7 linked regions of the Homo sapiens genome follow. The protein of the gene in region 4 purifies or fractionates together with the protein of the main gene of each other region. This does not show direct contact. Each region holds a gene or a part of one and is shown on either strand. Other genes may lie near its edges.

Region 1 (3,931 bases), about 41 Mb from region 4:
GCGCCACTCCCCCTACCTCTAGTAACATGGGGCTCACTACATCACTCCTACTTCTGCTCCCATTAGAAAGTTGTGTCCAGCTAAGTGTGCCCGTGTGCCTACTGCCCACTGGTCCTAGAAGAATCTCTTCCATGTGGCAGCCTCGAGATCTTTGGAGACAGTGGCCACTCCTCCCATGGTCCCTAAGTCTTTTCTTCCTCAGTTTTCTTGAATGTCCTGGCTTTCTGATGCTGCACCATGGTTTTTACCATCCCTGAATGTGGCATCTGCACAAATGTGGCCCCCCCACCTCCAAGCCTATCCTGTGCCCCACTTCATACTGCTCATTCCTGCTGCCCCTCTGCACATGCTCCACCCACCATGCATGGATGGCACCCACCTCCTCTGCCAGGTCTTCTTCAGATTCCCCACTCAGGGTCTGTAGCACTTTGGACTTGTAGGTTTTCCAGAAGGCCTGGTTCATGGCTGCAGGGGGAAGGGGCCTGGCACGCAAGCACAGGAAGGTGGTGGCTCAGTGGATACCAGTGAGTCTGGCTCTAGGAACTTGGTGAGGCCAAGAGCCTGTCCGAGGGATCCAGTGACTTCATTAAAGATGCACCAGCCTCCCCAGCTGGCACAGTGCCCAGGAGGTGAACCTGATCCAAAGGAGTCGGGGAGTGGGGGATGGAACAAGCTTCTGCCACCTTAGCCCCTTGTCTTGACCCATATTGGCCAAGAATAATGAAGTCATTTGTCTCTAGAGAGGCTTTCTTCCTGGGCCTAGGAGTACTTGAGTTGTTCATCTCTTAGCATGCCTCCAGGAAAATCTTCTTCCATTCACAAAATCCTGAGGTCTGGGACCCACACTGGAGCCCCTGTGACTGTAGTCATACTAGTTGTGTCCTCAGCAGGGCTCCACCCTGTGTCCCTACTTAGCCTCAATGAACTGGAGCAGGAAGGTCCGCAGGCCCCCAGTGGGCACCTTGGGCTTACATTTCACTCCTTTGTCTGGGCTGGAAACTGATTCCTCTCCCCAGGGATACACGTGCCTGTCTCCTTGTTTCCTGGCAACAGACTCCAAAGAGCTGGAGCCCCTGAATTATTGCTAAGCTCCTCTGGCCCCTTCCAGCTGAGTTGGCTCTGGCCAGCCTGGGAGGCACCAGGCTCCTGTGAATGGGGAAAGGCCCTCTAGCCACTCTGAGCATGCAACACCTAGGCCTTTGCTGCCAGCCCACCTCTGGGAGCCCAGGGCTTAGAGAAAGGAGGCAAAGATGGAGAGGTCCTTCTATGAGTACTTGTGAGAGGAACTGATCCCTCTGGAGTCTGGATGCCTGAGGACTGCACTCTCTGGGGAGGAACACCCTTCACGGATTTGGTTGGGGTCAGAGAGAGGATGGAGACTCAAGGGAATAACGGGAGCCCGGAGAAGTGAGGGCTTTTTCAGGGACTGGAGATTATCTCGGGAAGCCCTGGTGGGGCTGGGATTCCAAACTTATTCACTCTCAGTCATTTACTAATTTATTCATGACACAGACATTTATCAGTGCTTTCCAGAGATAAAGCATCCCACCCCCACCGCGGAGTCCAAGGTCTGGGAAACAGGAAGGGATGACAGGAGTACAGGTTGGCACTGATACTGGTTGGACCAGGCCAGGAAGAGCAGGGCAGCAAGACGGCCCCGAAACCCCCAGGCGCACGCACCACCCCGCGCCTCCCCAGCGAGGGCCCGCGGGGCCATGCCCTTCAGTGGGCACACTTCTGGGAGCCCGTCCTGAGCTCGGTCACTGACGTCGACGGCCGCCTGGCGGCGCTCGAGCCGCTGGCCGAGAGTGACGTCATCAGAGGCGGTCCGGCCGAGCCTGCCTAGCCCCCCGGCGTGGCCTGACGTAGCTGATCGGCCCGGAAGTGCTCACACGTGTGCTCCCTGCCCTGCTCCTGGCCCCTTGGCCGGCCGGGCTGTTTCTGGCCATGGGTCGCTCCCGCCGGACAGGCGCGCACCGAGCGCACTCTCTAGCCCGGCAGATGAAGGCGAAGCGGCGGCGGCCGGACTTGGATGAGATTCACCGCGAGCTGCGGCCTCAGGGATCCGCACGACCCCAGCCCGACCCAAACGCCGAGTTCGACCCCGACCTGCCAGGGGGCGGTCTGCACCGCTGTCTGGCCTGCGCGTGAGTCCCGGACGAGCCCGGCCTGGGGCGGAGGAGGGTCCGCGGTACCGGCCGGGAGATGTGAAGTTGAAGCCCCAGGCAGCGCAGAGTCTTCTCTCTTGGGACCCGTGGGTCCGCCCGCCTCCCGTTTCTCAGACCCGGATCCTGGCGTCAGGGACAAGCTAGGGCTAGGGAGATAGGTGCACTTGGGAGACTATCACCTCCTCACTCTCCTTCTCACTTCCATTCCTACAGGAGGTACTTCATCGATTCCACCAACCTGAAGACCCACTTCCGATCCAAAGACCACAAGAAAAGGTATGAAGGAGTAAGGAGAGGATTGATGGATGGGTGCTCAGCAGATAGGGCTCTCACCTGGTCAGCTCCCAACTCCTGTTTTTCTTTCTCCCAGGCTGAAGCAGCTGAGCGTCGAGCCCTACAGTCAGGAAGAGGCGGAGAGGGCAGCGGGTATGGGATCCTATGTGCCCCCCAGGCGGCTGGCAGTGCCCACGGAAGTGTCCACTGAGGTCCCTGAGATGGATACCTCTACCTGACATGGCCTGAAGATGCAGGGCAGAGGAATTGCCCATGGACAGTGACGCAAGGACTAGGCTGGGAGGGAGCGTGCCAACCCCTTTTGCCTCTGGGTTTGGGGAGCGGAGGGCCTCTTCTTGGTGCCCTGCCCCAAATAAAGGAACTGGACAAAGAGAACTTGCCTCCAACTCTAACTTCCAGGCCGCTGTCTCAAACTCCTGCCCTGGAAGGGCTTCTCTACTACTTTCTGTACACCAGGCCTAGGGTGTCTACTCCCCACTTGGTCTATCTCTGCCTTCCCTCTGAGGTCCTAGCATCTGAACTGGAGCACCCAGATGGAGGCCTGATGCAGTGTGGGGTGGCGGGAGTGGGATCAGATTACTCTGTCCTGCTTCTGACAGAGACTGATCCCCAGAAAAGAAGGCTTCTGAGATTGCACCCCCCTCCCGAGTCACCTACCCCCAGCATCCAAGTGAGAGTCTCTCTTCTTCGTTACGGGGCCCGTGGCACCCGCCGCTGCCCCACCATCTTCCAGACGGCATAGCAGGAGCCACCCAGGCCGAGGACAGCTAGCACTGTAGCCACAACTCCTGCCAGCAGACTCCGGGGCTCTGCCTTCAGCTCACCAGCTACCTGCATCTGGAGGTGCACAGAGGGTGTGCCTCAGGGGTCAGTTGAGACTGCCAGGAAGGTGGGGAGTGGGAAAGGGCTGAGTAGATGTAGCTAGGGGAAGGAGACATGGACGCCGGTCCTGCCCCAGGGAGATTCCACCCCAATCCCTTTCGCCTCACTGCCCATCTGGGCCTGCCTGCTCAGGCGGCAGGGAACGTGACAGCCTGGCTGTTGGGGGTGTCAACCCAGCTATGGTAGGGGGAGGAAGGGGTCAGTCGTGCCAGAAACCGTTGATCAGGGGTACTTACCTGTAACACCCGGAAGTAACCAGGGGTCAAGCGTCGAAATCGCATGGTGGGCGGCACTGGTCTCCCTGGCGGCCTGTAGGGTGGGAGCGGACGTGAAGACCAGTGGTCTTCATGACACCAAGAAGTGGAAACTAGGGTAGAGGGGTCTCTGACCTTCCACATACGCAAGACCCAAGCTCTCAGAGGATGCTCACCCGCGCCTGCCTGCCCAGGTCTGGCAGGGGGCGGAGCAACTGGACCTTTAAATCTGGTCCCTTCCCCCACTGCCTACCATCCTGCCAGCCTTAGAAGCAGCTGTCAAAAGAGATCAGCATCAGGCTTGAGCGGCACCTCCCCCACTCTCCGAGGAGG
Region 2 (4,573 bases), on a different chromosome or scaffold from region 4:
AATGTTATAGAATTGGCATGTGAAAAGCTATTAACGACTTTTTTAGAAGAAGTTTTAGTGGAAGAAAGAACTAGAAAAAGGTTCTAAGGTGATACACTTTTGGTATACAAATATTCTTTCTCTTTTTTTTTTAAGTATGGAAATTTCATCGATAAGCTAAGACTCTTCACCAGGGGAGGATCCGGTGGAATGGGTTATCCTCGTTTAGGTGGAGAAGGTGGAAAAGGTGGTGATGTCTGGGTTGTAGCCCAGAACAGAATGACTTTAAAACAACTTAAAGACAGGTATCCTCGGAAACGGTTTGTGGCTGGAGTAGGAGCAAACAGCAAGTAAGTAATTACTGAATGACTTAAATTTTAGAAAATCAAACCCTTCTGGAAATTTTTTTTTTAGTTACAAAATAAAAACTTAATTGTTAATTTGAAGTAAATTATTTCCTGTATTTATAACCAAGCAAAAGCCTAAAATGTCTCAACTCATAAAAGACTGATACTAAAGAATATTTCAGAGTTTTAAAACTTTCTGTCCGTTTCTTTTCCCAATGTCTATCTGTATTCTTTTTGCACTTCCCCTGTAGAAACCGATAATTATCTGAATTCCCACTGTTTTCTTCTAAAATTATCTTTGACAACCTTTTAGAAAACTTTCAGTCTTAACCATGCTACTCTACCCCACCACCATTAGAAGGCAAGATAACCACTATTAACCTTTTCTTGACTTTTCTAAGACTTTTCTGTGTGTTTACACAAATGCAATTATGTGCCTAAAAGTTTAGAATACAAAAATGAGAGTACAGTATTTTACAATCTGCTATTTTTACTTTTTTTCACATGTCAAAATTATTCAGAATACCTGCATAATAAATAACTATTTTGTCATTTGTCTATTTAGGTTATTGTTGATTTTTTTTTCCGATTATAACCACAGTGCAGCATTCTGTGTAGATACTATTTTACATGTTTGTTCAATTATTATTTTGATAAATTCCCAGAAGTAGAATTACTAAAACATTTGTACTAATTTTTTCTTTTATGAGCAGTTTAAGAGTAGCCAGATTTGCCTTCTATAATGTAAGTACTCTCATTTGAGGTTAGTTTTTTAAAAGCTTTGCTATTTGGTGGATTTTCTTTTTTTTTTTATAGATTCATTTTTTCTTTTTTTTTTGAGACAGAGTCTCATTCTGTTGCCTAGGTTGAGTGTAGTGGGCACTATCATAGCTCACTGCAGCCTCTACCTTTCAGGCTGAAGTGATCCTCCCACCTCTGCCTCCCAAGTAGCTGAGACTACGGGTATGTGCCACCATGCCCAGCTAATTTTTAAATTTTTCTTTTTTTGTAGAAATGGGGTCGTGCTATGGTGTTCAGGCTTGTCTTGAACTCCTGGACTCAAGAGATCCTCCTGCCTCCGCCTCCCAAAGTGCTGAGATTACAGGCGTGAGCCACCACGCCTGGCTTTTTCTACCCTATTTGTATTGTAGCAATAATCTCTTCATTTCATGGTTGCAATATTTTAGTTTCGGGTTAAAATGACCTTTGGTGGTTAGCTTAGTAACTTAAATCATTACTTAATGCCATTTTAGTGGGATATAATAGTCTAAAATGCAAAGAAATAATTAGGGATAATTTTAGTTTTTTTAAACCCCGTGTTTGACCATTTAACATCTGCGTTAACCAGAGAATTGATTGCTACTCTTCTTTGTAAACCATTTTGTGTGTATGTGTGTGTGTGTATATATACACACACACATACATACATATATATACTTTTTTTTTGGTAGAATTAGTGCACTGAAAGGCTCCAAAGGAAAAGACTGTGAAATCCCTGTGCCTGTGGGTATTTCAGTAACTGATGAAAATGGTAAAATTATAGGTGAGTGTACTATAACTCCAAAAGTTGTAAAAATGTGCACGTTTTCTAAAATGAAACAATGGAATAGCTTCTCTTGAGTTTCAGAAGATTTTTTAACTAACAATTTTAGCTACTATTCTATAAGAGAGCATTTTTAAAACTTATAAAAGTTAAATTGACTGCTAGATTTAAGATTGTTTTAAAGATGTTACAGTTCTTACTTGGTCTTAAAATATATAACTAGGCTCTTTTCAATTGTTTACTGAAGTGTTTTTCTGGGGTCAAACTTTTAATAGATTTGTAAATTGGAATTTCCTGGACTGTTTTTCTGAAAGAACAATATTACATTAATGATTCTACTTATTAATTATAGATTTGTAATTGAGAATTTCCTGGCATGTATTTTTGAAAGTAAAATATTACATTAATGATTTCACTTACTAATCTATAGATTTGTAATTTTGCATTTCTTTGCCTGTATTTCTGAAAGAAATATATTGCATTAGTGATTTCACTTATTAATCTTTGCTGTAAGTATTTCTCTCCCTCTTTTTAAGGAGAACTCAATAAAGAAAATGACAGAATTTTGGTAGCTCAAGGAGGTCTTGGTGGTAAATTACTTACAAATTTCTTACCATTGAAAGGCCAGAAACGAATAATTCACCTTGATCTAAAACTTATAGCTGATGTAGGCCTAGTAGGGTAAGTATCGTTCATATTTTTATTATTATACTTTCAGAGAGAGAGTTCTTGAATAGAAAATAAATGTAAATGGTAATTTGGGGCCATAATTATTTCTAATTTATGGAATTTGTGTGTTGTGTATGTACTTGGAAAATATGCTGCTAAATATTATTTTCAAATTGCCAACACAGAGTTTCATAGTTATTGCTTATTTATAAAATTAAGACCAGAGCAATTGAATAGATCAGTGGGAATGTTAGAGAATGCATAAAGAAAGAAAAATCAATCAAATGCAATATTACAAGATGGTTAAATAATGTTACCAGATATTAATAATAAATCCAAACAAACCGTATTATTATTAAAAATATATAGAAGGAAATAAACAGGGAAAAATGGTTGACATAACTCTTTTGGGTCTTAATAGAGACATTAAAGTATCGTTAATCAAATGGCTAAAGACCAGTACAGACAATCTCAATCCTCAGACTTACGCACTGTTGCCGCCAAATTGAATCCTGCTATGACTGTATATCCTTCTTGCCTCTGCTTAGGATCTATCTAGTCTCAGCAATGTAGGCCTCACAAGAGTGTCCTCTTCCACCAGCCTCCATTCTTTCATTAAATAATGCTGTTTAGCTGTGGGGTTTGCAGTGCAGCTGCCCACTGGAAGGGGATAGATAGTAAGATACAGAATACATAAAGGAAGAGAAAACTTCAATTTGCATTTGCTCTCTCTCCCCCATCCCCCCTCCCTCCTATCCTCTCCCTCTGGCCCTATCACAGTATTACACAGTTATTCAGATGGAAAGCTTAAGGACAAGATAAGGAAAACTGCCTTATTACTGTCCTACTCCAAATTCCTAGTTCTATTTTTTGCTTCCCCATAGCTTCTTTCTAAGTTCTTTTCATGTTCCTCTTCAGTCATCTCACTGCTTCTTTACCAGACTCTTAAGTCTGTATCCCTCGTCTTTTGCCCTGCCTGACCAGCCACTAGAGCTTACCACCATTGGTTTAGGGTTCACAGAGGCCCCATTCCTGCTAAAATTATAACAAGGAAAGATGTGATCCTGGCTTGCCATTTACATTTATTTTTTTCAATAAAGCACAGTTACAAGAGTTATTAGATGTAAGTTCTATAATCCTCTATATTTTTAGGAACATTATGGGCTTAATAGGGTCTTATGGACAAGACTGGCAGTCCAGCCAATCACAGTTGCATTTTGCATAAACATGTGTTTCAAGTTCTGAAGAGACAACTTTACAGTCTAAGAGGAGCCTAGCACGGCTTAGTCATAAAAGTGGAGTGGCATGGAGGACTCAGGTTAGACTATTTAGGTTAGGATCTCAAATCCTCTGGAGGCTGGCCAGCTGGTCTTGGGTAAATTACACAGCCTCTCTAAGCCTTTGTTTTCTCTTCTTTTTTTCTTTTCTTTTCTCTCATTCTTCCTTCACTATAGTTTTTTGCTTTTCACCACGTCATTTGTTTTCTCATCTTTAATAGTGTATGGAGATAAGTCTTTCCTTAAAATGTTGGTGGGTAAGATAATGCATTTACAGCAGAATACATGCTTTGCATTTTTGTACGTTCAATGAATTGTAGCTGCTATCTTCATCATCATTATATTGCCAACTTACTGGAAAACTGCATATAATGAAATACTAGGCTTTTCAGAAGTAGGTTTGAAATTTGTCTGTAATTAAAGCATCAAGATTCTTAAGCATATCAAACAAGAATGGGGGAAAAAGATTTTTAAGTGGAATGTTTAACATATTTTCTAGTGTTTTTAAATTAGGCAACTATTCTTGAAGAGTTACTACTATGAATACTAGCATAAGTAGATATCCTTTTAGCTGGTTTTGGAAATGGACTGAATCACAGAAGAAAGTTATTGTACAACTAACAGATTTGTGCTGCTGTTGTCAGATCTGATCTTTGCATAGGTTGGATTTTAGCCTGTAAAATTTTCACTGGGTACTTTTCAAGAAAAATTTCAAATATCTGTTATTCAGTCATTAGCATCATCTTTCTATTCATACT
Region 3 (4,573 bases), on a different chromosome or scaffold from region 4:
GAGCTCAAACCCAAACCTGGGTAGTCCGGCGGTCTGTGCTCCAAACAGCGGCTCTGTGACTCCTCAGTGCGATGAGAAACAGGGCATGCCAAGCTCTCGAATTTTAACAAAGGAGATCAAAAACCCTAAACTAAATGTATTTCGAAAGCTACAATTTTTATTAGTATACAAAAAGGGCAATCTTGCTTTTAAAAAACGAATGTGATTCTTGTCTGTCTTTTGATTTTCTAAGTTTCAATGCTCTTTTTTCTGTGGTTACTTCTCACATACTGAAGACAAAGCATGAGCAGTGGAGCTCTAAGCAAATTACAGAGGGAATTCAGGGGCTCAGTGACATTTTATTCATTAAAAACAGTAATAAAAAATACAACAGGCCGGGTGCAGTGGCTCATGGCTATAATCCCAGGACCCTGAGGGGCCGAGGCAGGAGGATGGCCTAAGCCCTGGAGTTTGAGACCAGCCTGGGCAAAACGGTGACATCCCGTCTCTACCAAAAACGAAAAAACCCTCGAAAATTAGCTGGGCATGGTAACACATGCCTGTAGTCCCAGCTGTTTGGGAGGCTGAGGTGGAAGGATCGTTTGAGCCTGGGAGACAAAGGCTGCAGTGAGTCAAGATTGCTCCACTGCACTCCAGCCTGAGCAACAGAGCAAGACCCCATCTCGAAACAAATAAAAAAAAAACACTACAACAAATTCATTTCTTATTTTCATCCCTTCCAGGGATCAGAAAGCTGACACTGACAGAGAAAGAGAAGACACAGGTCTGGTTCTTTGGCACCACTTCAGAGGTCTCCATCGTCCACAGGTCAGAAAAGCAACCCAGAAAAGTATAGGACAAGTCACCTCAAACAAGAGGCAGGTGTGTGTCTGTCTCTGACTCATTCTGAAGAACCTCCTCCAAACTCAAGACTTCAACTGTCATTTCTGAGTTAATGTCTCCGAATTGCACATTCGTAACCTCAACCGTCAGACGTCCCCAAGACGAGCTCATCTTCCCCACGACAAGCTCTCTCAGTGGTCACGTGGGCTGAGCCCAGCGCCCAATGTCACATGGGGTTCTGTCACGGCTGCGTCCTAACTTTACATCCCATTGTCACAGAAGCTCCGTGTTCTCCTACAAAGCTGAAGTCTGCCTGTGCTGCTTCTCGGTTCCATGGCATTCTCCCAGCTCTCAGAATGTTCACTCAGTAAACCCCGGTGGAGACCCTACCATGTGCTGGGCATGGAGCACCACAGCTAACGAGAAGACCTGCCTGCCCGAGGAGCTGACGACCTCGTTGCGAAGAGGGACACTGAACAATCCCTGCTTTACTTTTTTTTTTTTTTTTTTTGAGACGGAGTCTTACTCTGTTGCCCAGGCTGGAGTGCAGTGGCGCGATCTCGGCTCACTGCAACCTCTGCCTCCCAGGTTCAAGCATTCCTCCCACCTCAGCCTCCCAAGTACCTGGGATTACAGGTACACGCCATCACGCCCAGCTGATTTTTGTATTTTTAGTAGAGACGAGGTGTCACCATGTTGGTCAGGCTGGTCTCGAACTCCTGACCTCAGGTGATCCGCCCGCCTTGGCCTCCTAAAGTGCTGGGACTACAGGAGTGAGCCACTGTGCTCGGCCTCAATCCCTGCTTTACTGCTGGCTTAAGTATCACCAAGGCAGGGTTTAGCGCTCTTGAGAAATACATAAGACGGTGGCCCAAACTGCCTTAGGGGAAGGGGAGTGTGGGAAAAGTCTCCTTAGGTAAATGACGTTGAAGTTAGGACCTGAGAGCTGAGGAAGCTGATCTTCAAAACCATGTTATTACATAAAACTATGGAAGAGCAATGAGTAGGCATCACATGCTTACAAGACACACACAAGCCAAACACCTGCCGGGCAAGGCGTCCTGCCCTACCTGTAGGGTGGAACTGAACAAACTCTAGGTCCTGGCAAGGAAGGCCTGCCCTGGTGATCATGGCCGTGCCGTCGCCAGTGCTGGTGTGGGCAGACGTGCAGCTGAAGTAGGTGCGCCCGTAGCCTCTGGAAACAATAGAGAGCAGTGACTGCACACAGCGGCCCACATCTGGACCTCCTATCTGGTGAGATCACAGAATGGACACGGCAGCCCCCAGCACCGTCTTCTCAGTGCTGTGCACACACAACCCCCTACTCACGCACACCCCACACATATCACTAGGGGCCGCGCCACTGGTGCTGCTACCCTGCACAGGTAGGATAGAAGCCTGGGATCAAAGAAAGGACTTCCATTTGTATTTTATTTATTTATTTTGAGATAGGATCTAACTCTGTTGACCAGGCTGGAGTAGAGTGGTGCGATCTCGGCTCACAGCAACCTCCGGCTCCCAGGTTCAAGTGATTCTTCCGCCTCAGCCTCCCGAGTAGCTGGGATTACAGTGTGCACCACCACGCCCAGTTAATTTTTGTATTTTTAGTAGAGATGGGGTTTCACCATGTTGGCCAGGCTGGTCTCGAACTCCTGACCTCAAGTGATCCTCCCACTTTGGCCTCCCAAAGTGCCGGGATTACAGGCGTGAGCCACTGCACACCTGGCCCTATTTGTATTTTAGCTTTGTGCTGTTCAAAAGGTTTCCCCAATAAGCATATACTACTTTTATAATGAAAATTTTAAAATTTTTATGGATTTTTTTCTCCCCCAGATTTACTGAGGTATGATTGATGAATTTAAAAAAAAAACTATATATTTATGGTGTACAGCGTGATGATTTATTTTGTGAAATGATGACACAATCAAGTTAATACACATCTATCACCTCATACAATTATCCTTTTTTTGGAGATACAGACGCCTAACGTCTACTATCTTCGCAAATTTCAAGTTATAATATTAACGATAGCCACCATGCTGTATAATATTAACTCTAGCCACCATGCTGTATAATGTTAACTCTAGCCACCATGCTGTATAATATTAACGATAGCCACCATGCTGTATATTAACTCTAGCCACCGTGCTGTATAATGTTAACTCTGGCCACCATGCTGTATAATGTTAACTCTGGCCACCATGCTGTATAATGTTAACGATAGCCAGCATGCTGTATAATGTTAACTCTAGCCACCATGCTGTATAATGTTAACTCTAGCCACCATGCTGTATAATGTTAACTCTAACCACCATGCTGTATAATGTTAACTATAGCCACCATGCTGTATAATGTTAACTCTGGCCACCATGCTGTATAATGTTAACTATAGCCACCATGTTGTATATTAGACCTTCAGAACTTCACCTTGTAACGGGAAGTTACACCTTTAATCAGCATCGCCACAGTCTGCATTCCCCCAGCCCCTGGCAACCACTGTCCTACTCTGTTTCTGTGAGTTGTGACTGTTTTAGATTCCACATGAGTGACATGCAGTATCTGTCTTTCTGTGCCTGGCTCGTTTCACTTAACATAATGACTTTGGGTTCATCCACGTTGTCACACATGACAGGATTTCCTTCATTTTCATAGCCGAATAATATTCAGTTGTGTATACACACCACATTGTCATTAAACACCAACACATATTTAGGTTGTTTCCATATCTCGGGTATTGTGAATAATGCTGCAATGAACATAGGGTCCAGGTGTCTCTTTGAGCTTCTGATTTCATGCCCTTTGGATATACACCCAGAAATGGGGTTGCTGGAGCACATAGTAGTCCTATGAATTTTGAGGAACCTCCAGAGTTTTCCGTAATAGTTGTACTAATTTACATTCCCACCAACAGCACACAGGGTTCCCTTTTCTCCACATCCTCACCAACACTTGCTCTTTTGTCCTCTTGGTAACAGTCATTCTAACTGGAGCGAGATGAGATGATATCTCATTGGGGTTTTAATTTGCATTTCTCTGGTGCTTAGTGACGTTGAGCATTTTTTCATACATCAATTGGCCATTTGTATGTCTTCTCTAGAAAAATATCTATTCAAGTCCTTTGCCCATTTTTAGTAGGGTTGTTTTTTAGTAGGGTTTAGTAGGTTGTTTTTAGTAGGGTTTTTTTTTTGCTATTTTAGATAGTAAGATATTATTACACATATGGTTTGGAAAATATTTCTTCCCAACCTGTAGTTTTGCTGATTTTTTGTTTGGCTGTACTGACACTTTTTAACTTTTAAAATGGTTAAAGTAACTGACAGTGTATAAAATTAAAGTTACTTATTTTCATCATGTGGAGAAGAAGGACTTACCCACCCGAGGAATCAGTATCAATACAGTACCCACTAAAACAAGAGAGATTTTGCCAGAAAACCCCATGTTGACTCTTTGGGCCACAGTTCCCTCATCTAAATTGGGAGAGGTAAGCTGTGAACCTGAGGGCAACCACTACCATCTACTGAGGACCATGCTTTCTCACCCTGAGGCAGGTGCTCCTGTCCTCACCCTTTACAGGTGAGGAACCACGGCTGGGAAAGGCCATCACCCTCACATGGTTATATCAAGGCCTGTGTCTAAACCGTTATTCTACAATGCCTCTATTTTCATTAAAATAAAGAAACTCTAAATGAAATTTATTCATTTTTATAAACAAAATAAAGTAGAAATGAGATTCCTACCCTGTGGCAACAAC
Region 4 (4,573 bases):
AAAACAACACTTTAACTTTCACATGTCTTCATTCTCGTGACAAATGTGAGGTAGTTAAGGGGAAGGAAGAAACTATTTACAAATGGAGAACTGTGTTACCGTGTTATTGACAGAGCTCAGAGTTTCTGTTTTCTGCTCCTCATTGTCTGAGTGCTCTAGAAAAAAGGTCGGACACAGTGGCTTACACCTGTAATCCCAGCACTTCGGGAGGCTGAGGTGGGCAGATTGTTGAGTTAAAAGTTTGAGACCAGCCTGGGTAACATGGCAAAACCCTGTTTCTACAAAAAATATAAAAATTATCTGGATGTGGTTGCGTGCACCTGTGGTCTCAGTTACCTGGGAGGCTGAGGCGGGAGAGGATCACTTGAGCCCAGGAGGCAGAGGTTGCAGTGAGCCAAGATAGCATCACTGCATTCCAACCTAGTTGACAGAGCAAGACTGTTTCAAAAAAAGGAAAAAAGAAAAAAAAAAAGGATCCCCCTGCCCTGACTTTATCCCAGTACAGTTTCTTGGTATCTGCAGGGGATTCGTTCCAGGACCCAGAGATATTAAAATTTTCAGATGCTCATGTCCATTATATAAAATGGCATAGTATCTGCATATAGCCTAAACACGTTTTCCCTATACTTTATTTTTTATTGTTTCTATTTTTTAATTTAAAATATAGAACAATTTACAGTTTTGCGTGTCATCCTTGTGGGGATCATGCTAATAATCTTTGTATTGTTCCACTTTTAGTATATATGCTGCCAAAGTGAGCACTCCCTCATACACTTTATTTTGAGACAAGGTCTTGCTCTGTCATGTAGGCTGGAATGCAGTAGCATGGTCACAGCTTACTGCAGCCTCAACCTCCCCGTGCTCAAGCGATCCTTCTAGCTCAGCCTCCTGAGTAGCTGGAACTACACACCTGTGCCAACTCCTGGACTCAAGCAGCCCTTCTGCCTATGCCTCCCAGAGTGCTGGGATTACAAGTGTCAGCCACCACACCTGGCCTACTTTTTATTGTTATATGGTTGGTTGGTTTTATTTTTTTCTGAATATTTTCGATCTGTGGTTTGCAATAAATTGAAAGCATTGGTTTGAAATAGCAAACATTTAAAAATCACACAATTAGTATATATAATTGATTCTAATTTGCTGGTGTTTTGTGAATTTGTTTTTATGTTTCTAGCCTCCTTTAAAATTTGTATTAGAACATTCTATTGCCTTACAGTGTGTTGGTTTGGTACAAAGGAGTGACATTTAATACTAGTATGAGTTGATGTAAGGGGTGAAAACATGGATAAAAACACAAAAATTTATTTGTACTTTAAAGGCTAGTTATTAACAGCTGTAATATTTTAAGTTGAGTCTAATGGAATTGTAATAGTACAAGTTCTAATGAAAGAACAAAATGTTCTTTATCCCTTTAGAAAAGAAGATTCCTTAGATGTATTTAGGAAAAGAGGAAAAGAAAGCTGTACTTTCAAGTCCTATAAGTACAGTTTTCAACTAGAAGATTAAAACCCATCCCAAGCGTACAAGAAGACATCAGGCATGAAGCAGTATAGAATTGTCTGGCTTTTTGCTTTTTTCCCCCAGACTGGGTCATGTATCTTAAACGCAAATAGAAAAGAGGATCTGGATTTCACAAACATGACTTCATTTTTAAGAAGTTTCTAGCTGGGCATGGTGGCTCATGCCTGTAGTCCCAGCACTTTGGAAGGCCAAGGCCAGCGGATCGCTTGAGCCTAGGAGTTTGAGACCAGCCTGAGCAACACTGTGAAAACCTGTCTATAAAAAATACAAAAAAATTAGCCAGGTGTCATGGCATGTGCCTATAGACCCAGCTACTTGGGAGGCTGAGGTGGGAGGATCGCTTGAGCCTGGGAGGTGGAGGTTGCAATGAACCCAGATCGTGCCACTGCACTCCAGCCTGGGTGACAGAGTGAGACCCTGTCTCAAAAAAAAAAAAAAAAAAAGGTTCCTGTGACACATTTAAGGTGTGGTTTTATTTGTGCATAGCTTTACAAGATTCCCCTCTTTATGTAAAGTGTGTAGTGTTTCACTTGAATTTGTAGCTCTCCAATTTGTGTAGAAAAACGTAGTGGTTGTGTATTAACAGAAAATGCTTCTGAGAAGTTTATATCTAGTAAGGTCTTTACCCTAGTTGTAGTTGGAAGAGTGTAGAACAGAGTTTTTCTTTCTGAGTGTTCTTTTTAACTTCAGTGTTAGTGCTAGTAGTAACCTTATATGTCATCTCTCCAGAGGTCTTCATCAAGGATTCACATGGCAGTCCTGATCTGAAGGGCATATTTAAAATGTACTTGTCCAGATTTCACTGCTAAAGATTATGATTCAGTAGGTCTAGGATGGGCTTCAGCCGTTTGGGTTGATTGTGATAGCATACATGTCTTTAGTTGAGGACTGCTGGTATTACCTGCAATTTTGAGATAGAGAAAAGTGCAGGAAAATCTTCCTCCAGGATCACTAAAGCTGAGCCCTAGCTTGTTACCTGTGGAGGCATTGAGACATTTGTTCACAGAAAGTACAGTTTGGATTTTTGGTTTTTTTTAGAAGAAAGCTCATTATTTAGAAATTTTGCAATGTTACTTTTCTACTAATAACACAATCATCTTCACTTATATTTTTAGGCTCATGCTGAAGATTCGGTTATGGACCATCATTTCCGGAAGCCAGCAAATGATATAACGTCTCAGCTGGAGATCAATTTTGGAGACCTTGGCCGCCCAGGACGTGGCGGCAGGGGAGGACGAGGTGGACGTGGGCGTGGTGGGCGCCCAAACCGTGGCAGCAGGACCGACAAGGTAATTTAAGACTTTCTTTTCCTTTTACATAATTTAAGGACCTCTTATAAGTCACTGGCTGGGTCAGACTTATGTCACTTTTGGGAACATAAGTAGAAGTAGTAGCAGTGTCTTTAAGAAACCGCATGTTAGGTTATATTTATGTTTAAAGCACTTAAATGCCTTTTTGTGTAGTGCTGTTAGTAGTGTTAAGTTACCACCCTTTTGAGTTCTTTCTAGGTGCCGGTCATGGTGCTGGGCTAGGCATTTTATGTACTTAATGTCATTTAATTCTTGTTACTGTGATGACATTCTCATTTTCCAGATGAGAAAATTCTGGTATAGTGAATCAGGTTAACTCTTGGCCTTTGCTAAGGCTTACCTGAAAACCAGTCTGTTCACTTTGATAATTCCTAACTGCTTTTTAGGTCTCCACTTAATAACCATTGTGTTCCTTGTATAATTCCTCTTACGACACTTAGGATTGTTGACACTTTTTTCTTTTACTAGACTCTTCTGTGAGAGCTGGGATTCATTTTTGGCTTACTTTCTATAATCTCTCCAATGCCTTGAACAGTATGTGGCACAAAACAAGTTCTTAGAGAAATATTTTGGTGAATTCCCAAGTAATTGATAGATTTGAACTCAGATCTGATGCTTGGAAACAACCATAATGTCCTCCTAAATTCTCAACACCTTACACACAAATTTGGGGACCCACCTACTTGATTGAGTCTGTTTTTGATGATTACAGGGGTAACTTACCATTGCCAGTGTAATGATACTTTGTTCCTCCCTCTAAGACCAACCTTTTTTTTTTAAGGTGGTGGTTGTGTTGATGGGCTTTTCCCATACTTTCTTTTTTAGTTCTGTTATTTATACTTTAGGCTATAAAGAGCAGTTTGGATTCCTTTTTTCAGACTTTCAACCTTGATGATTATTGCTACTTAGATATTAGTTCCTTAGCATGCTTTCACATTGGTGCCATTCTTATTTAGCAAGTGGAAAAAGTATAAGAATACTGAACAATGCGAATTCACATACATAATTGCTTATGAATCTACTTGTATGGTTTATTGGAAAAAGTAAAACAACTGGGCTGGGCGCACTGCCTCACGCCTGTAATCCCAGTACTTTGGGAGGTCTGGGTGAACAGATCACCTGAGGTTGGGAATTTGAGACCAGCCTGGCCAACGTTGTGAAACCCTGTCTCATTAGCCAGGTGTGGTGGCACATCCCTGTAACCTAGCTACTTGGGAGGCTGAGGCACAAGAATCACCTGAACCCAGGAGGTGGAGGTTGCAGTGAACTGAGATTATGTTACTGCACTCCATCCTGAGCAACAGAGTAAGACTGTCTCCAAAAAAAAAGAGAAAAAGAAAACAACCCATATTATTACTCTGGAATGAAAATAGGCCTTGGTAGAAATTTAGGACAGGGCTCATTGCAAATACTTGTAGTTTTTTTGTGATCCATAATTTTGTCTTGATACATTTTACCTAGAATTTTAACAGTAGGATTTTTTTTTTTTTTTTTTTGAGATGGAGTCTCACTCTGTTTCCCAGGCTGGAGTGCAGTGGCACAGTCTCGGCTCACTGCAACCCTTGCCTCCCAGGTTCAAGCGATTCTCCTGCCTCAGCCTCTTGAGTAGTGGGATCACAGGTGCCTGCCACCACACCCAGCTAATTGTTTATATTTTTAGTACAGACAGGATTTCACCATGTTGGCCAGGCTGGTCTCAAACTCCTGACCTCAGGTGATCCACCCACCTTGGCCTCCCAAAG
Region 5 (4,573 bases), on a different chromosome or scaffold from region 4:
TTCATATTAATAGCCTGCTTATCTGTGAGTACATCAAGTGCAATAACCCTCAAACTAGGGAGGTAGCATTTGAACTAAGTCTTGAGAATGATTTTGATAGGGGTTGGAAGGTGCAAGTGGGGTAGGGACACAGCATTCCAAGCTGGAGGAAAATGACTCAGAAGTGGTAAATTTTCTAGCCATATTCTTGGCAAGATGATCTCTACTGTCACTTCCAGTTTTATAAAGTCTTATGTGCTGTATGTTTTTTTTAATCAGGCAAAATATACTTAACACTAAATTTGCCATTTTAAGTGTACAGCTCTCTGGCATTGGCTACATTCACATTGATTTTGTGTTTTTTTTGTTTGTTTGTTTTTTGGGTGGTTTTTTTTTTGTTTTGTTTTTTTGTTTTGCTTTTTTTTTGTGACAGGGTCTCACTCTGTCTCCCGAGCTGGAGTACAGTGGCGCAGTCTTGGCCCACTGCAGCCTCCACCTCCCAGGTTCAATTGATCCTCCCACCTCAGCCTCCCGAGTAGCTGGGACTACAGGCATATGCCACCACACCTGGCTACTTTTTTGCACTTTTTGTAGAGATGAGGACTCCCTATGTTGCCTAGACTGCTCTCAGACTCCTGGACTCAAGCGATCCTCCCACCTCGGCCTCCCAAAATACCAGGATTACAGGCGTGTTGTGCAGCCCTCACCACCACTGATTTCCAGAACAAATAAGGATTCCTTATTTTCAGATCTAGAAATTGAGTAGTTGTAATTTTAATGCTTAATGGTATATACTACTTTGTAAAGTCACATTTCAAGCTTTCTATGAACACGTTTTACTGACAGACAGTTGGCAAGTTTCTGTTTTGAATTAGTACAAACAAAAAGGCACACATTGTTTTTAACTTGGAAAACAGGTGCTTTCATTCATGCAGAACTGCAAAATAGGCAGGCATGTTTTATAAGATCTTTTTCTTTTAAATGTCAGGTGAATGGGAAGCTCTCTGAATTCATATGATAGAGTATAGTACTTGTTAGAAACAAACTTGTGGCAGAAGAAACAATTTTTAACCTATCCACCATTGTAAGAACCACTTTTTTCTTCTCTTGAAAAAAGTATAAAGGTACATCAGAGTCACAATTCTCAGGTTGCGAGTGCCTAGGTTCTATACACAAATACAAGTTATATGAACCTTTCCTGGAACTCCTCTTCCCTCACCAGTATTGTGGGAATTTATTTCCTCTATTTCCTAATGTAGACTTCACTGCTAACCAAGACTCTCAGCTTTCTGCTCACAGTGCCTGCTGGCCATCTATGTCAGGACAGAGTGGATGTCAAGATTAGTGGAGGAAGTGGTAGGGGAATATTGTTCCTCCCTTTCTCTTACAAATTCTACATAGTGTCAGCATATGGAAAGGAGAATCATTTTGTCTTAATTAACTGAGCCCTCCCTTCATGATCGCTAACCCTAGGCCACATCCCATTCCCCACACTACAATGTCAGTTCCACTCTGATTCTTCAACCCTCTCCCATCCCCTAAGCACTCATCATCATGTCACTGGGTTCCATTCTCTGCCTTGATAAAGTCACATCCTCATGGAGATGCCTGGAAATTTTAAATTGGACTCCTGAATACCTCCCAGGGATTTTTGAGTTTGAGGGCTACTGGCAGTAGCTTGAGAATCTTCACCCCGCAGCTGGGGTTGTAAAGGTGAGAAATGTGTTTCTGGCATCCCAAGTTGAGGCACCATGCTGAATATATTTTCCTACTTGAAATATTGTTAAGATATAAATAGTAGTGAGTTTCTCTGGTACTTTTTATGCTATACTACGAATGAATACATTTGTGTGAAATTGTCTTTTGGGAGGACTACCCCAGGAACTTAGACATTATTTTTATGGGAAAATGCTTGCTTTTAAAATTCTGAACATCTTACTTAAAAACCAACTTTTGGAACACAGTCCAGTCACTACTTGGCTGCTGCCAGTATAGTAAAGCCAACCATTCTACTTCCAGTCAGCTCTTTGGTCCCACAAAAATTCAGAGAATACCACTCATGAAATGGTATGGAGAGAGAGGTGTCCCTTGTATTTAAGCTATAGCTAAAATAAAAAGGGTTTAATGGTTTATTCCAGTGTTTAACTGATGGTACTGAATGGTATGTGTGTGTGTACACCTGTTTTAGAATTTGTATACATATATTCCTCCCAGGAGCCCCATTTCCTCTTGTTCAGCTCACAGGGAAGTTAATTCCACCTGGAGAAAGCACAGATTTTTAAAGCTACACTCTCCCTTTTTCTTATCCATTTACATCAGAGGTAAAATGAACAATATTCTTTCTAGGTTCCGTGTGTGCCAAAAATGCCCATTAACCGTAGCTGATAAAAGTTTGAAGTACATCAAAACAAATGAAAGCCAACAACTGAAATAAGGCAAAATATCCATTGTCCTCAAACTCAAACCCAAAATTTCTACAAGCCCTCATTTACCTCCTCATTCTTTAATGTAACTATCTTTTCTTTCCAATATCATTCAAGATAATTATTTAAAGCTTTGTTTTTTATAAAAATTACTAATAGTTCAACAATAACAAACAGTACTTTTATTTGTTTAGCTATATCATAGGCAAAAAGGTATGCGGGTAGTCTAAGCTCAGAATTTTAATTTGGAATGTTCTATGGAAAAAATATATTCGGGGTTCCCAAGCAACCATTTTTAAACCTACATTTTAGAATCTGTTCTTTATTTTTTTAATTTTTAATTTTTGTGGCTACAAAGAAGGTGTAAATATTTATGGGGGTACATGAGCTATTTTAATAAAGGCATATAATGTATAATGATCACATCAGGGTACATTTACTCTCTGTGTTACAAACAGTCCGGTAATACTTTTCTACTTATTTTTAAAAGTATAATTAAATTATTATTGACTATAGTCACCCTGTTGTGCTATCAAATACTAGATCTTACTCATTTTCTCTAACTACTTTTTGTACCCATTAACCATCACCAACTCCCCCTCCCTACTATCCTTCCCAGCATCTGGTAACCATCCTTCTATTCTCTATCTCCAAGGGTTCAATTGTTTTAATTTTTAGCTCCCACAAATAAATGAGAACATGCAAATAGAATCTGTGCTTTAGTATGTGAGATTTAACATTTTTGCTAGTATGTTATTTTGGCTCAGGTTTGTAATTATTAAATTGTTTCATGGCTTTACAGGGGTCTAAATTATGGATAATAATGGAATACCTGGGCGGTGGTTCAGCACTGGATCTTGTAAGTATTTTAAAATAGTTACACACAGATGCAAATGTGTGCATATGCACATACCTTAATTTTTTAAATTGAAGATTAATGGCTTTTGAGCACGCTAAGTGGTTGCTTTAGTTAATATGTTCAAATTAAATTCTTTTTTCATGACCTCTACCTTATGTAGGTACAGATGTATTGTACGTTTGAACATGTTGCTGGCATTCTAAGACTATATAAGAAATGCAAATAGCTTAATAAAATAAAGTCTCCCAAATTAGAAGGGGATGTGTGTATCCATTGCTGTCAAAGTTTGACTTTTGCAAGCTTATCCCTGAAAAAACTGAGTTTTCTTAGATTTTTAAAAAATATGTAATTGAGATAACTGTCACTAAAAGTGTTTTTTATGAACTGAATGTTTGTGTCCCCCCAAAATTCATATGTGGAAATCCTAACCCCCAATGTGATGGTATTAGGCGGTGGGGACCTTGGGACCTAATTAAGTCATGAAGGTGAGTTCTCATGAATGAGATTCGCACCCTTACAAAAGAGGCCCCAGAGAGCTCTCTGACTTTCTTTCCACCACGAGAGGGTGCAGTGAGAAGAAGGCCTTCTGGAAACCAGGAAGAGTGCCTTTACCAGACTCGAATCTGCCAGCCCCTTGATCTTGGACTTCTTTCCCAGTCTCCAGAACTGTGAGAAATATTGTTTAAGCCACCCAGTCTGTGGTATTCTGCTATAGCACCTGAATTGACTAAGATAGTGGTACTAGGGTTCTAAACAAGGTTGGCCTACAGATCCAGTTCTTCACAGAGTTCTCTCTGCCCCTCTATAGGTTATTTGGAAATGTGATGGCATTTGGGTTGTCACAATGACTTAGAAGTGCTCCTGCCATTTTTGTGGTCATGGATCAGAATGCTAAAATCCTGCAGTGTGCAGGAAAATTCAACCCAATGAAGATGCATTTACACACAGAATGCCTTTGAGAAACACTGGTTGTTCCCCAATTCAGTGTGATCCTATCAATGTTGAGTTTCTTTCCCTTCCTTAAAAATCTTTATTAATATGATACTATGTTTTAAAATTCAGTATGACTTATGAGAGGCAACTTAGTGTAGTAGAATGACCACTGGGCTGGCCTGGGGTGTTTGAGGTTATAGGTCTGGCTCTGTGCCTGTGAACCAGACACAAACTTCCTGGACGTAGGTGTTCTATAAAACAAAGAAGTTGCACTAAGTTATTTCTAAGTTCCCTTCCATCTTTAATATTATATTTTTTTTATTTGCGTGTTTCTGCCTTAGAAATTATAGAGTATGCTGTTTCTAAGAAAGTGTTTTGA
Region 6 (4,573 bases), on a different chromosome or scaffold from region 4:
TGTTCTAATATTAGTATATGGTGATGGTTGTACAATTCTGTAAACATACTAAAATTCATTGAATTACATACTTAAAACAGGTCAATTTCATATTATGGAAATTGTATCTCAATAAAGCTGCTAAAAAAAAAAATCCCAAAACCTATCCTTAAGTAACTGTGAAAAGGCACAGCAATCACCACTGACTACAGTGCAGTGAACACGTCCTTCTGGTAGTAATCCTGTGGACTGAAAGGATACAAAACCCATTGGGTCTTGTGGAAAACCTAAAAGCCAAGTTAGCTTTTTTTTTTTTTTTTTTTTTTTTTTTTTTAAAGCCAAGTTAGCTTTTAGGAAAAAATAATTCTAGGGTTAAGAATTCCTGCTACATTAATTGCTTTTCTTCTGTCTTCCTGATTTTATCAGGTTCTGAGTGGTAAACTAAAACTATCATTTTGTTATATTAATAAGATAAACCCAATAACCAGTTTTACTATCAACCAGAAGAGTTCTGGGCCTTTAAAGTAAAATAAACACTGTCTTTATACAATTTCATCCAATGTAAAGTTCAGGAACTGTATTCATCACCAGGGCTTAGCACAGTTCCTGACACTTTGTAGATACAAAGTAGTTTTTGCTAAATGGAATTGGAATGAACATGTGAAATGACTATTCTGTATTTCAATGGAACTATAAAGTTTTATGTAAAGTCTTCTATAGTCTTAAAATGGTTATCTAAGTTAGAAATATTAACAGCTGGGCCGGGCACGGTGGCTCACGCCTGTAATCCCAGCACTTTGGGAGGCCAAGGCGGGCGGATCACGAGGTCAGGAGATCAAGACCATCCTGGCTAACGTGGTGAAACCCCGTCTCTACAAAAATACAAAAAATTAGCCAGGCATGGTGGCAGCACCTATAGTCCCAGCTACTCGGGAGGCTGAGGCAGGAGAATGGCGTGAACCTGGGAGGTGGAGCTTGCAGTGAGCCAAGATGGTGCCACTGCACTCCAGCCTGGGTGACAGATCGAGACTCCATCTCAAAAAAAGGAAAGGAAAGGGAAGAGGAAAGGGAAAGGGAAAGGGAAAGGAAAAGGACAGGAATATTAAAAGCTCATAAGGAAACGTTTCATAACAATCATTTTGTTTTTATGCCAAAGAACTTCATGACCCCAAGATGGGAATGTTAGTTGTTCTGCGTCACCCAGAGGTAGGCAGAAATGGATGCACACAAAAGGTCACAAAGATTAGACCTCTGAAAAATTAGGTGTAAAAAAAAAAATCAATCTCTATGTTCCTTTTAATCGCTAGACATATTACAAAGGATTACATCATAGAAATATCTTAGTAAACAAAATAGCCCTCCAAATCCACTACTCACAAAACATCAAAATTAAGATTCTTCACGTAGAGCATTACTAGATTTGGCATTACTACTAAAGCACGTGGTCAATTCTGTTCAATACATTCAACTCATAAAACACTCATACGAATAAGAATGTGAATCGAAGTTTTCTGTGAACCTGTTGCAATGTGTACTGTACTGAGATGATGAAGATGACCAAAGCTAGGTATCCTGGATATACTACTAGACGTCAGTTTAAAAGCTCTTACCCTCATCTCTTAAGGTGAAACGACCCATCTGAGGGAAGTCTTTAAAGGTCTCAAGGCAGATGGTTCCTGCTGTCCTTAAGCGAGCAATGCATACTTGATCTTGTTTGACAAAACGGGGTCGGGTCTTACTTTTTTCTCCTGATTTTTTGTCTACCAAGCAGATTAAGGCCTAACCAAGAAAAGAGTATGAGAAAATCAGAATAATGCCAAATAAAATAATCTTTAAGAACAGGTGTAGAAATAAAAGTGCATCACTGTTGCTGATTAGAAATTATGAAGATAAAACAGTATTAAAACAGAAATAAACCAATTATCTTAAACTCACTGTTATTTCCACCTCCTCAATACAGGTATGAATATGCAGCACCGCATTATAGCCTGGGCAGATGATGGATTTGTGCTCTATAATCACTATCTGTCAAACAAACACACACATTCTTATCTTTAGCCTTAGGGTAAATAAGAATTCAATGTTCTCAAGCGCCATATAAATCCCAAGAATTAGTGTTACCATCTCACTAGGACATCAACTTAAGTGATTTTTGTGTTAGAGGTGATAGGTTTGTCTTACTAATTTTGTTCACAGGATGGGTCAGGCTGCTTGAACTCAAAGCATGAATTTCAGTATCTTATCCTGTATTTATCTTCTTGGCAAGTCCCTGGTCAACTTTCAAAATACGGCAGGCTGGCTGGGCGCAGTGGTTCACGCCTGTAATCTCAGCACTTTGGGAGGCCGAGGCGGCAGGGGGGCCGGGGGGATCACCTGAGGCCAGGAGTTCAGGACCAGCCTGGACAACATGGTGAAACCCTGTCTCTACTAAAAATACAAAACAATCAGCCAGGCGTGGTGGTGGGCGCCTAAATCCCAGCTACTCAGGAGGCTGAGGCAGGACAATCGCTTGAATCCCGGAGGTGGAGGTTGCAGTGAGCCAAGATCGCGCCACTGCACTCCAGCCTGGGTGACAGAGCAAGACCCCATCTCCAAACAAAACAAAAGACAGCAGGCCAACTTTCTTATCTGGGAAGACTTTCCTTATATTCCCCAAGGAACTAAGCTAATTTTTACCGCTCAGAAGCTACCTAGATGTAAACTTATCCAGCTTTATCCATTTCTCAATATCCAAGGTCCAGTAAAGTAAACAACCTTACATCTGGCATCAAAATCTAACTTGATTAGTTGTCATACCTTAGAAAAGAACTTTAAAAAATTCTGTTATTCACACCAGTCACTTACTCTGTCATTCTCCCAGGGAGGTTAGATTGTTAATAACAGGGAAACCTGTGTGATTTCTTGTCTGGAAAGCTATGTGCTGTCAATGAGCACATAAACCATGACTTCCACAGTAACTGTGCTCTGGTCAAAGTGAATATTAGATACTGTAGAATGTATCATCAGGAGATCAAACATAAAAAGGAACTTACAAAGAATACTCCTTATCCAGTAAGCACTTGTACCAGCTTGAAGACCTTGTATGAGGTGCCTATTGTGGTTATGATATATAAGTGGCTTATAATATTTCCATTCCCCTTCTCTACACTAAGATGGGTTAACTGGCATGTCACAAATAATCAGGACAAAAGGCACTGATATTCTAATTTCATTTAGACATTAAAACCCACTATGACAACAACAATAATTTGTTTACCTGGGCATCAAATGTGCGTCCAGAATGACAAAGATTATTAGGATCACAAAGTATAAACCCTGGAAGAATCTCCTCTTCTTCAATTCCTTTCAGTCTGATTTTGAGGTTTTCACCTGGGGCTACGGTATCAGTCTCTACATCATCGGAAAGTATTCCAAGAACTTCCACGTTGTGCTTTAAAAGAAAACAAGACTGGAGGTTTTCTGACACATTCACTGCATTACGCAACATAAAATGATCTGAATGTCTGTCTGCTCAATAAAGAGTTGCAAGATTTGACTGTAAACACTTATGTTTGTATGACATAAAATCTTAGCCTAGATATGATCAGCAAAAATCATATCCTAGAAGTATAACTGCCAATTAAAGTATTAACGTGTCACCTTTTAAATATCACATTCTAATCATTTCCAACTAGAACACTGTATACACTAGCATTTGCCTTTTTTTACCTTTTCAAAATCGAAAACACAATTTAATATTTGGATTTCAGTTTTATGGATATAATTTTTATTATTATGGAATTCTATGAAGGATTTAATAAACCTGTCTTCTATTACCTATCAATCTCCAAATATCGGAATTATGCACTACTTAAAAATTATTGAACTAAGCTTTAAAAGTCTATCAACTATTTAATGAATACATCATTTCCTTTTGGTGTAATGAAATGGTCTGGAATTAGATAGTGATGATGGCTGCATAGCATTGTTATTTTTTTATTTTGAGACAGAGTTTTGCTCTTGTTGCCCAGGCTGGAGTGCAGTGGTGCGATCTTGGCTCACTGCAACCTCTGCCTCCTGGGTTCAAGCCATTCTCCTGCCTCAGCCTCCCAAGTAGCTGGGATTACAGGCACCCACCACCATGCCTGGCTAATTTTTTGTATTTTTAGTAGAGACGAGGTTTCACCATGTTGGCCAGGCTGGTCTCAAACTCCTGACCTCAGGTGATCCACCCACCTTGGCCTCCCAAAGTGCTCAGATTACAGGCGTGAGCCACTGTGCCCGGCCTAAACTCTTTGTTTCTAACAAAATAGTCCACGGAGCTGGGTAGTCCACATGCCTTTAGCCCCGCTACTTGGAAGGCTGAGGCATGAGGACTGCTTGAGCCCAGGTGTTTTAAGGCTGCAGTGAGCTATGATCACACTACCGCACTGTAGCCTGAGTGACACAGCGAGACCCTGTCTTTAAAAAAAAAAAAAAAAAAAGTTTTTAATGTAAAAATAAAATAGTTATGGAGCCTCCAGTTCTGATGCCAGTATTGCTCCTCAGTACTGCCAGTGCTGGCTGTGGCAGCAAGGTGAAGCAAAAGAACAAGTGACCTGAGAGGAGATACACG
Region 7 (4,573 bases), on a different chromosome or scaffold from region 4:
AGTCTATCAGTCTTTAGGGAATAAGATAAAAGTAAGAGAAAATGGCTTCCACTTCAGTCATTTATAAATCATCTAGAAAGGGCTTCTAGTCCCCACACATCAGTGGGTATTCAGAATCCAACGTATAGTTATTTCTACAGTGAATAGAAATAAAAGACATTCTATTTCTTTGTTTTTCCATCTCCCTTTCCTGGTAAATAAAACACATTCTAAGGTAAGAATAGATAATGTGAAAATTACAAATTTTAATCAGTTCCTGAAATGCAAAGTGGAAATGAAGTCATCTCTAGTTCTAGCCACAAAACTAAATTAACTGTCAAAATTTTCGTAATTAAAACATTTTAAAATCACTTGTACATTCATTCTAGACTACGTGATGATGTAATGTCAACCACCCCAATAAAAACAGAGACATCTACTCTTCAGGAACCTACTATATAAGAAACCATAAGTGAAGCTGTTAGGAACAGTATGAAAATGTAAGGAACTGAAAATGAACCCTCTCAGACACCAATTGGTAAAAACAAACACATCTCATTTCCAAAAGGTAAAAAAATTACCTGTTTAGAGTCCTAGCAAGATACTTTGTTCCATTTCTATTGGCCAGAGATGGATATTTCTTTTGAAGAAAAGCATACTCATCACGGATTGAATCAGTTACACTCTTCTTGTTGTTAATATCTAGCTGGCTCCTGAGGTTGAAAAAATAACGAAACTATTCAGCTTAACTGTTGTCCTCTTCCTACCTTAGATGATGACAGCACCAGGCATTGTTCTCTAATACCTGACAGGGACTGTTTTATTTAATTCTCACAATAATTTTATGTGGCAGGTATTATTACCCCATTGTATAGCAAGGAACTGAGGCTCACAAAAACTAACTTACCCCAGGTCACACACTAACTGGCATAGCCAAGACTTGAACTAAGTGAATTGTAAGTAACTAGTGCCTAAATAGAGTAGGCCTCATTATTACCATTAACTATAGACAAAAACAATAAGTAACAGGTATAGACAGGTATAAAAATATAAGAGTATCTTAGTCAACTGTATATTTTATCCATGGACAGGGAACTAATTTCTCCCAAAAATAATTAAGTTAACTTGAAGAACAATCATCTACAAACAACGAACAGTGTTAGGCCACCTCCTTACCTGAAAAAGGAGACAGCTGGAATTGGGAGTGGGGATGGGAGAATGACAGTGGGGATGGGAGAATGACAGTAGGGTTGGAATGGAAGGACATTAAAATAGAAGCAGACAACTGGAATGGATCTTATGTATCAGGCAGTAAAAACATTTTCATTTTCTAAAGGCTTGAGACCCAAAGACATTAGGTGTCATTTAAACCTACGTTGTATCTAGTTTATGTAAGAACTAGGACTATAACTCAGATTTCATGATAATTTCAGTGTTTCCTACCATATGAAGGCTTTGGACTAAAAGAGATATTCATCCGAATCCAGCTCTTTCACTACCCACGTGACTTTTGGTTAAATGTATAACCTGAGGTTTCTGATTATAAAATAGACATCAACACCTACCTCAGGGGATGCTGTGAGGATTCCAAGAGATACCATTTGCAAATTGCTCACAGTAGAGTGTCTAAAACGTAATTAGACACTCAATAATAATTTCCTTTTCCCGATTTTTAATACCAACTATTTATAATTAGGATACCTTTAATAAAATTTCTCCAAGTCACATCCTGGCAATTACACAGAATCACTAATGCTAGGGATTAAACCAATCTATTAAAATCTTGTCACCTTTAATTAGACACTCAATACTAGTTTCCTTTTCCCAGTTTTTAATACCAACTATTTATAAATTAGGATACCTTTAATACAATTTCTCCAAGTCACATCCTGGCAATTACACAGAAGCATCACTAATGCCAGGGATTAAAACCAATCTATTAAAATCCTGCCACCTTAAACTCTTTCTCGATTGGGTGCACATTAGATAATTTTTCCCTTACCCAGTACCTCCTCATACATAGCTTAACATGATAGGCAAGAATTCTTAAAGCCTGGCTATTACAACATTTCTTCCATTTTGTGGTATTGCTTACTTTAGAAACATTTTCCAGTAAAAATGTCTATGGGGCAGGCACAGTGGCTCATGCCTGTAATCCCAGCACCTGGGAAACCAAGGTTGGAGGATTGCTTGAGCCCAGGAAGTCGAGACAAGCCTGGGCAACATGGCAAGACCTTGTCACTACAAAAAAATTTAAAATTAGCCAGGTGTGGTGATACACACCTATAGTCTCAGCTACTTGAAAGGCTGAAGTGAAAGGATCACTTGAGCCCAGAGGTTGATGCTACAATGAGCCACAATCACGCCACTGCATTCCAGCCTAGGCAACAGAGAGAGACCCTATTTCAAAAAAAAAAAAAAATTCTCTCTCTTTTCTCCCTTTAGGGCAACGGATTCTTTAGCAATACCAAGATCATAATAAAAGGGAGAAAAAATATAGTACAGCATCACATTTCAAACAGATTTTAGAAATTCAGACTTGCTCTGAAGTGAGAATGCTTATCCCATTCTAAGAATGCTTATCCCAATTCTTATCCCATTCTAACTGCTAACCTGTTAACTACTCCAATTATTCCAAGTTTGACTGGAATAACCCTTCCCATCAATACATCCATGGCATCAGTACCCGCATCCATGAGATCAAGTTTAGTGATTACAGCTAGGGTTCTGCGACCTGGTAAATGCAAAAAGAAAAAAGGGCAAAGAAAAGAAAGAAAATGATCCATTAAATACAACTATTTAGTGTTAATAAAGGAAAACCCTCATCTACAATCCCACTTAGTATTACCTCTGTCATCATTTTGGTAATGCCTTACTTACCAGTGCTTTTTTAAAAATAATGTTAAACATTGTGTATAATTTTTTAAAACATTTTTGCCGGGCACGGTGGCTCACACCTGTAATTCTAGCAGTTTGGAAGGCCAAGGCGGGTGGATCACCTGAGATCAGGAGTTTGAGACCAGCCTGACTAACATGGTAAAACCCCATCTCTACTAAAAATACAAAAATTAGCCAGGCACAGTGGCAGACGCCTGTAATCCCAGCTGCTCGGGAGGCTGAAGCAGGAGAATTGCTTGAACCCGAGAGGCAGAGGTTGCAGTGAGCTGAGATCGTGCCATTGCACTTCGGCCTGGGTGACAGAGCAGGACTCCATCTAAAATATATATATATACTATACATATAAAATATATATACTATATTATATATAAAATATATATAGTATATATATAAAATATGTATAGTATATATATAAAATATGTATAGTATATATAGTATGTATAGTATATATTTATAATATATATACTATATATATTATATATACTATACATACTATATATACTATATATAATATATATACTATATATACTATATTTTATATATATATAAAATATATACTATATTTTATATATATACTATATATAGTATATATAAATATATATAGTATATACTATATATAGTATATTTATAAAATATATATAGTATATACTATATATATTTTATAGTATATATATTTCAGTTACAAATATATATATCTACCTAGGTATATATATTTTTTATATATATATCTACCTAGGTATATGTATTTTTTATATATATATCTACCTAGGTATATGTATTTTTTATATATATATCTACCTAGGTATATGTATTTTTTATATATATATCTACCTAGGTATATGTATTTTTTATATATATATCTACCTAGGTATATGTATTTTTTATATATATATCTACCTAGGTATATATATTTGTAACTGAAAAATGCCATAGGTAAAATTGTACACTATGCAGAGCAGGACTCCGTCTAAAATATATATATATACTATATATATATAATATATATACTATATATTTAAAATATATATAGTATATATTTAAAATATATATAGTATATATTTAAAATATATATTATATATTATATATACTATATATTATATATAGTATATATATTATATATACTATATATAATATATAGTATATATAAAATATATAGTGTATATATAATATATAGTATATATAAAATATATAGTGTATATATAATATATAGTATATATATACTATATATACTATATATAAAATATATATAATATATACTATATATTTTATAGTATATATAAATATATATAGTATATACTATATATATTTTATAGTATATATATTTCAGTTACAAATATATATACATAGGTATATATATAAAATATATATAAATATATAAAATATATATATAAAATATATATATATACCTATGTATATATATTTGTAACTGAAAAATACCATAGGTAAAATTGTACACTATGCAGAGCAGTTGGAACTCTCACACGTTGCTGGTGGGAGTGGTGTAGTCATTTTGGGAAACAGTCTGGCAGTTTCTTATAAAGTTAAATTAGCAGTCCCATTCCTAGGTGTTTAACCATGTTAAGTGAGAACCAGTGTTCATATAAAAAACTATATGCAAATATCTACAGCAGCTTTATTCATAATTTTCAAAAACTAGAAACAACTCACATATTTCTCAGATGGGTAGTGAAATACC

The links.
Region 1: the proteins of SERBP1 (region 4) and ZNF593 purify together in Homo sapiens (affinity purification with mass spectrometry; 2 studies listed by BioGRID and IntAct, with this or other methods). This does not show direct contact.
Region 2: the proteins of SERBP1 (region 4) and GTPBP10 purify together in Homo sapiens (affinity purification with mass spectrometry; 2 studies listed by BioGRID and IntAct, with this or other methods). This does not show direct contact.
Region 3: the proteins of SERBP1 (region 4) and SDHA purify together in Homo sapiens (affinity purification with mass spectrometry; 2 studies listed by BioGRID). This does not show direct contact.
Region 5: the proteins of SERBP1 (region 4) and STK26 purify together in Homo sapiens (affinity purification with mass spectrometry; 2 studies listed by BioGRID and IntAct, with this or other methods). This does not show direct contact.
Region 6: the proteins of SERBP1 (region 4) and GSPT1 purify together in Homo sapiens (affinity purification with mass spectrometry; 2 studies listed by BioGRID and IntAct, with this or other methods). This does not show direct contact.
Region 7: the proteins of SERBP1 (region 4) and DNM1L purify together in Homo sapiens (affinity purification with mass spectrometry; 3 studies listed by BioGRID and IntAct, with this or other methods). This does not show direct contact.

The regions. Positions count from the first base shown.
Region 1 is NC_000001.11:26,168,037-26,171,967, forward strand, and holds ZNF593 (zinc finger protein 593), read left to right. Parts: upstream 1-1,871; 5' UTR 1,872-1,947; coding exon 1,948-2,147; exon of another isoform or gene 2,148-2,381; coding exon 2,382-2,444; exon of another isoform or gene 2,445-2,538; coding exon 2,539-2,680; 3' UTR 2,681-2,837; downstream 2,838-3,931. Other genes in the region: uncharacterized protein C1orf232, read right to left, coding at 380-463; transmembrane protein ZNF593OS, read right to left, coding at 3,153-3,299, 3,581-3,625. UniProt on the Homo sapiens protein: Involved in pre-60S ribosomal particles maturation by promoting the nuclear export of the 60S ribosome. Negatively modulates the DNA binding activity of Oct-2 and therefore its transcriptional regulatory activity.
Region 2 is NC_000007.14:90,352,681-90,357,253, forward strand, and holds part of GTPBP10 (GTP-binding protein 10), read left to right. Parts: intron 1-135; coding exon 136-329; intron 330-1,777; coding exon 1,778-1,869; intron 1,870-2,405; coding exon 2,406-2,550; intron 2,551-3,026; exon of another isoform or gene 3,027-4,573. UniProt on the Homo sapiens protein: May be involved in the ribosome maturation process. Complements an ObgE(CgtA) function in E.coli ribosome maturation. Plays a role of GTPase in vitro. When missing, disorganization of the nucleolar architecture is observed.
Region 3 is NC_000005.10:228,320-232,892, reverse strand, and holds part of SDHA (succinate dehydrogenase [ubiquinone] flavoprotein subunit, mitochondrial), read right to left. Parts: coding exon 4,560-4,573; intron 2,018-4,559; coding exon 1,893-2,017; intron 1-1,892. UniProt on the Homo sapiens protein: Flavoprotein (FP) subunit of succinate dehydrogenase (SDH) that is involved in complex II of the mitochondrial electron transport chain and is responsible for transferring electrons from succinate to ubiquinone (coenzyme Q).
Region 4 is NC_000001.11:67,413,403-67,417,975, reverse strand, and holds part of SERBP1 (SERPINE1 mRNA-binding protein 1), read left to right. Parts: intron 1-2,636; coding exon 2,637-2,810; intron 2,811-4,573. UniProt on the Homo sapiens protein: Ribosome-binding protein that promotes ribosome hibernation, a process during which ribosomes are stabilized in an inactive state and preserved from proteasomal degradation.
Region 5 is NC_000023.11:132,060,229-132,064,801, forward strand, and holds part of STK26 (serine/threonine-protein kinase 26), read left to right. Parts: intron 1-3,204; coding exon 3,205-3,261; intron 3,262-4,573. UniProt on the Homo sapiens protein: Serine/threonine-protein kinase that acts as a mediator of cell growth. Modulates apoptosis. In association with STK24 negatively regulates Golgi reorientation in polarized cell migration upon RHO activation.
Region 6 is NC_000016.10:11,874,172-11,878,744, forward strand, and holds part of GSPT1 (eukaryotic peptide chain release factor GTP-binding subunit ERF3A), read right to left. Parts: intron 3,410-4,573; coding exon 3,236-3,409; intron 2,005-3,235; coding exon 1,915-2,004; intron 1,759-1,914; coding exon 1,590-1,758; intron 1-1,589. UniProt on the Homo sapiens protein: GTPase component of the eRF1-eRF3-GTP ternary complex, a ternary complex that mediates translation termination in response to the termination codons UAA, UAG and UGA.
Region 7 is NC_000012.12:32,716,783-32,721,355, reverse strand, and holds part of DNM1L (dynamin-1-like protein), read right to left. Parts: intron 2,714-4,573; coding exon 2,593-2,713; intron 693-2,592; coding exon 561-692; intron 1-560. UniProt on the Homo sapiens protein: Functions in mitochondrial and peroxisomal division.